2 separate regions of the Homo sapiens genome follow, and region 2 is linked to region 1. The links come from fine-mapping of genetic effects on plasma protein levels. A gene starts in region 1. The other region holds a variant in brackets. All regions are shown on one strand. Distances are from middle to middle.

Region 1 (2,912 bases):
CATGGCTGACTCCCTCAGCTCTTTCAGGTCTCCGATTTAAAGTCATTTTATAAATGAGGCCCATGCTGACGGCTCTATTTAAAATTGCAGGCCAGGCGCGGTGGCTCAGGCCTGTAATGCCAGCACTTTGGGAGGCCGAAGAGCGCGGATCACTTTTGAGTTCGGGAGTTTGAGACCAGCCTGGCCAACATGGTGAAACCCCATCTCTACTAAAAATACAAAAATTAGCCGGGTGTGGTAGCGCGCGCCTGTAATCCCAGCTACTTAGGAGGCTGAGGCAGGAGAATCACTTGAACCCGGGAGTTGCAGTGAGCTGAGATCGCGCCACTGCACTCCAGCCTGGGCGGGAGAGCAGGATTCCCTCTTAAAAAAAAATTGCAAACCCCCTTCCTCCAGTTTTCCTCATACCCCTTACCCTGGTGTATTTTTTTTTCCCCATATGCCTTCTAACATATTACATAATTCTCTTACATTTATCATCTTTCTCCTTATATTAGAATGAAAGCTCCAACAGGGAAGGGTATTTGTTTTCTCTCTCTCTTCTGTTTACTGATACATCCCAAGCACTAAAATAGTGTCTGGCAACCTTAGTAGTGATTGGCAAATATTTGTTGAGTGAATGAGTACATGAATCTTCAGAATCTTGCTAGTCTTATAAAGAAAAGGAATATGTGAATACTTTGAATCTCCAGTGCCTAGAAATGCTTGACCAAACGGCAGGTGTTCAATGTTTACTGAAGGAATTGTGTGCTCAGATCTGCTGGAGGTCTTTATCTGAACCCTTTGAGACTATGTCAAAAAAGTACCCAGGGCCAATTCACTCATGCCTCTCCTTTTCCTCTCATCCAATCAGCCTAGTATTCATCTAACAAATATCTAAGTCTCCAAATATTGAGCCACCCATTGTGAGTTCAAAAGCGTGTTTGGCGCTGCAGGGGAATATGTGACTAACGCGAATGAAGCAACAGCAAATACTACACTGGAATGTAATTAAGTGTGAAATTATAGGGCAGATTATCAGTGCTAATAGTTTAGAGAAAGAATCAGTGAAGACTGACGTAGAAGTAAATTCCAAAGTTCACTCGTCGACCAAACTACCCTTCTAAACGCTCCACCTACTGATAGTAGTACCATAACCTGGGTAGCTACCTTGAGAATTAGAAGGGCCTTTAGAGGTCCAACTCCTTTAAGAAAGAAAGAAAGACCAGGCACGGGAAAGGCCTCCGCAGACATGAGTCTAGCACCTGGGACTCATGAAGTTCTGAAAAGAGGGGTGTCCTGAAGGTCCAAGGCGCCTTTGTTGGGGGTCCCGGAATCCGCGGTGTGCCAGGTCGGAAAAGGCGTCCGCTTTCCTGGAGAGGAGGCTAAGGTGCCGGGCGCTTCGGTGAGGTGGCGGATGTTGGGGGGCGGGGGAGGGCAGAAGGCACCATTCCTTCGGGGCATGGGGCCCCAGGTATCCGTGGGCAGGGTCCAAAGCCACCGATCCCTACTGTCCTCAACTGCGGGGTTGCCTCCGCCGCCTTTGCTCCCAGACGCCACTCCGAGGCACAAGGACCCCAAGTCGCTCGGAACTGCCGGCCGCTAGATGACACCGGCTGCGCCGATGCAGAGCCTCGGGAGTCTCAGGGCACTACTTGTCCCAGCGGAGGGATCCTGCGTGCGTCGAAGCGACCGTGACCGCGCAGGGACTTGACGCCGCTGACGCCGGGCCGGCGGCGCAGCGACGCCGCAGGAGGCGGTGGCGGCGAGGGCGGGCGGGGGATGCGGGTCGGGAAGTAGTTCCGGGTGCGCGGCCCCGGATGTTGGCTGCTCTTGCTGCCGCCGCCGCTCTCGGGGCTGCTCGGGGCCTCGACCGCTCGCAGTAGGCACCGTTGGGACCTTTCCCGGGGGGGCGGAGACGCACGGAGCGGCCGGGGGCTCGGCCGGGCCGTCCCGGCCTGCGCAGCCTGAGGTAAGTGCCCCCCGCCAGGGCGGCCGGGCCTGGGCGGCGGGCGAGGAGGCGGGGCTGTGGCATCTCCCGGGACGGAGGCAGGGGCTGTCCTCCGCGAGACGCCCTCTCTCTTCCAGCCGCAGCCGCGTTGCGGGGTGGGCGGCGGGTGGGGCAGGGGGCCTGGGCCCCGGCTGGGGCCTGGCGGACGCCGAGGGCTGGGTCCTTCCCTCCCCCGCGGCGCTTCTCAGCTGCTGCTGCCCCTCAGCTGGGAAGCAGCGGCTTCGCGTCTCCCGCCCCTCCCCCAGGCGGGGCACCGGGGAACCAGACGTGGATCCCGGGGGCGCCTAGTCCGAGGGCAGCGACCGTCTCCTTCCCTCCATGACCTGTCCCTTGGCCTGGGCTAGCCCCCGACCCCGGCACTCTGCGGCTTCTTCCCTTTAAGCTTGGGGGCGCTTTTCTGCCGGCAGGGCGGGCTGTACCTCACGCCTTGGAGTGGCCCTTTGGGGAGAGGAGGCCCATGCGAGGGTGCTTGCGTTCCCGCCCATCCTGTGTCTGTGTCCTTTGCTGGGATTAGGGCAAAGGCAGCCGTTCCATGCGGACGTGTTGCTGTCCTGTGTGTGTTGCATCCTGCCCACGTGGTAGAGTGTCTCCCGCCCCCCCTCCCAGCTCCATTTTTGCAGCTGGTGAGGAGGGAGGTTAACGGGATGGTTTTTCCTCTGTGATTTCCTCCGGGTGGCGTGGAAGGTGTTAGGGTCAGTTTGCTTTGCCGAGGCCGGCTGTTGGTTAGATGAAGAATCGAGAGTTGTACTCTGAAATTGAGGCCAGTAGGGGACATAACAGGGCTTAGTTTCATTAACATCTTTTTTCCTCTTCCATTAGCTGCTCTTATTCTTTTCTCTGTTGCTTAATTATAGAGAATAAGCGCTTGCTACCGATGCATTCAGGTGTATAGTTTTCATTTCTCTGTTTTACTTTTTGTGTG
Region 2 (2,912 bases), 140 kb after region 1:
GCTTTCTTTGATCTTACAGTAATAACCCTATAGATTCCTTATATGTGACTATTTTCTAGGACCAAGGCAAGAACTTTTATTAACTCTTCTGCCTGTAAAACTTGGTAGCTTTTAAGATTATCTTGCAATGAACACAAATACAGTTTTACTACTAATGACAAATAGAATAATTTTATCTTTTTTAAAAAGCTTGATTCTTTTATTGATTGATATTATCTTGTGTTTTTTTTTTTCATTCAATAAAATTATTTTTATGTTTGGTTCAGCATAACATTGCATGGGCTACCCTTTAGGATTTGAAAATAGTCTAGTTACATAGAACCAAATGTTGCAGTAAGGTTATCTAACTACTTGGAGAACAAACATAAATTATCCTTAACATTAAACATTTTTGGCTTAATCATCATCATGGCAGCTAACATTTACAGAGCTCATCCTGCAGCTTACACCTTCACTATGTAGAAAGTAAAAAGTTCCTCTTCATAGTTTCCCTTCTTGTTAAAGAGTAAATCATAAGTGTTAGAAATAATAGTTTCTTTTAAAAACTAACTTCCTTTAAGCCTCCTTACTTTATGCTAATAACTTTTTGTTGGGCCCTATCCTGTGTAGCTGTTAAACATGCTCACAGGCACGTAGTACATTCTATGTCCTTGTACCTTAACTGAGATATTTGTGCTGGACGTGCTCACAGGCATGTTCCAGCTTGCAGCCTATGCCCCTTCCCTATTTGGCATAAACAACTTCCTCTTTTCCTTTGTCTTTCCATTACTTTTACCTATTTGGAAAAGTTTTAAACTATTAGCCAGTCGAGATTTAGTTTAGATTGTGCGGTCTTCTATCAAAGCCTTGGTCTTTATGCCTACAGAGAGCCATCCTGAGTGTGACCCCCACACCTTTCCCACTTTTCCCCGAACATTTCCTTATCTTTCAAGACTCAGTTCAGGCACTGTCTTTAAAAGAAAGGCTTCTCTATATTTTCAGCCTTCTCCTAGCTGAACAGACAAGGAGCAGTTTTCATAATCCTCTGTATACTTTAGCTTTAGTACTTAAATTGTTGGTCATAATCTTGTCTTTCTCTTCCACTTGAGGGTGGGGCATTATATTTCTTCTCAATAACCACAGAGCCTAGTGTGCAGTGGATGTTGGATTAACACTTATTAAATTGAACCAGTGTTGCTTCCTGGCATCATATGCTTTTGTTATGTTAATAATTTTACAAATGTTTGTCATAAAATACAACTGAAATCTGACCATAAATGATCTTGCTTTGTTTTTAGGTTTGATGAACATCCCTTCTGAATCTTCCCAGCAGTCCCACACTTCATGTACCTATCAGCACTCTCCCAGCAGTACAGTGAGCACTCACCCACACAGCAACCAAAGCAGCCTGTCCAACAGTCATGGCAGTGGCCTCAACACCACAGGCAGTAATTCGGTTGCACAGGTCTCACTGTCTCACCCCCAGATGCAC[A/C]CACAGCCATCTCCACATCCTCCCCATCGACCGCATGGTTTACCGCAGCATCCGCAGCGTTCCCCACACCCAGCACCACACCCACAGCAACACAGCCAGCTCCAGTCCCCTCACCCCCAGCATCCCTCTCCACATCAACACATACAGCACCATCCGAACCATCAGCATCAGACGTTAACACATCAGGCACCCCCACCCCCACAACAGGTATCCTGTAATTCTGGTAAGTTTTTGTCTCCTGGTTTGTGTTTGGCTAACTGTGAATTAGGATCTGTCCTTTGTTATTTAGAGCTCATGTAGTATTTACTACCAAAACCTCTTTACATCTGTTTCCTTGCTATAATCCTATAGTTGTAACTCATTTAATTCATAGACTGACCTGGCGACTTTCTTGATTAAAATTTATTGTGGCAACATAGGCAAACCCAGCAACCCTTGCAGGTTTTTATTTTAACTCTTGTTTATAATTTAGATACATTATCTTACATTATCCTGCCAAATCAAGTATAGATGACCACATTTTATATATAGGAAAAGTGCAACTAAAAGAATTTTAAGTAATTTGCTTAAGATCATACTGTGGTAAGTGGTAGAACTGGGGTTTATATTCTGACATGTCTGACTTCAAAGCTTATAACACCAGTTATTCTAAAAGAACTAAAATTAGCAGACATTTGCTAAGTGGGTAGGGTTTGCTCACCCAGTCGCTGCAGAGTTTGCTTTATTTTTATTTGCCAGGTCACTATTTATTAAAGGAGCCTCCTCTTCCTCTTACCCACAACAACAACAACAAATTAGTCATGGCAAATGTCCTGGTTCCTGCTCATAATTTCATTTCAGTTAACCTTTTTCCTACCCTGACCTTTTGACTACCTGAGTTGTGTTTACCTCAAGAGATCTGGATTCTAGTACTGCTTTGGCTGTTGTATTACCTAAGTGACTTAAATCATATAATTCCTTTGAACCTTGGTTTCCTTATCCATGAAGTTCTTCTTGAACTAAAGGATCTGAGTCTGGTAGACTTGCATGTTCGTGGCTCATTTGGATATTAGTTTAATCCCCTCCCACCTAACAAATTTCTTCCTAAGTTACGACTTGCTTCATGGCAGGGTCATGTTGTCTCTAGTTGATTGTTTATTTTAAAAATCCATTATTGGCAGAATTTTGTAATCAAGTAGCCAGTAGTTGATATAGCCAAGAGTTGCCTTGATGTAGCAAAAGCAAACCAACCAGCCCTTTTTATTGGTCTTTATCTTCATCCATCCGGGGGAGGTCCTAGAAACAGTGGCTTGACAGCAGTCACTGAAATGAAGAATTTTCTTCCACTATTCAGCACTGCTGTCTCATTGAAGGTAACTCTTGCTGCATGGCCTCTGACTAATGACTGGTTTGCTGACATACAGATTATGGAGTCTTAAACTCTTCTGATGTCATACCAGAG

Which allele goes with the higher level. Positions count from the first base shown, and alleles are read on the strand shown. Strength reflects both the effect of a copy and how common the allele is.
For the plasma level of the protein whose gene starts at base 1,775 in region 1, A is the high allele of the variant in region 2 and C is the other (weak association).

The links. PIP is the posterior inclusion probability: the model's chance that the variant is causal. The UK Biobank Pharma Proteomics Project read protein levels with antibody pairs (Olink). The fine-mapping took linkage between variants from a reference panel, not from the people measured, so its PIPs are less certain.
Region 2: its variant is fine-mapped to the plasma level of the FOXJ3 protein (UK Biobank, PIP above 0.99). The variant lies in the coding sequence of FOXJ3. If it changes the protein, the assay may bind it differently, which can mimic a change of level.

What each region holds. Positions count from the first base shown.
Region 1 is chr1:42,334,098-42,337,009 of GRCh38, reverse strand. It overlaps FOXJ3 (forkhead box J3), which reads left to right and starts at 1,775. Exons shown (of 13, transcript NM_014947.5): 1 at 1,775-1,951. RefSeq lists a silencer at 1,739-2,258 and an enhancer at 1,843-2,800.
Region 2 is chr1:42,190,085-42,192,996 of GRCh38, reverse strand. FOXJ3 (forkhead box J3) reads left to right here. Exons shown (of 13, transcript NM_014947.5): 9 at 1,278-1,694. Among named protein-coding and RNA genes, the nearest start is that of GUCA2A, 27 kb to the right of the region's middle. The variant A/C (reference allele first, on the strand shown) is at 1,472.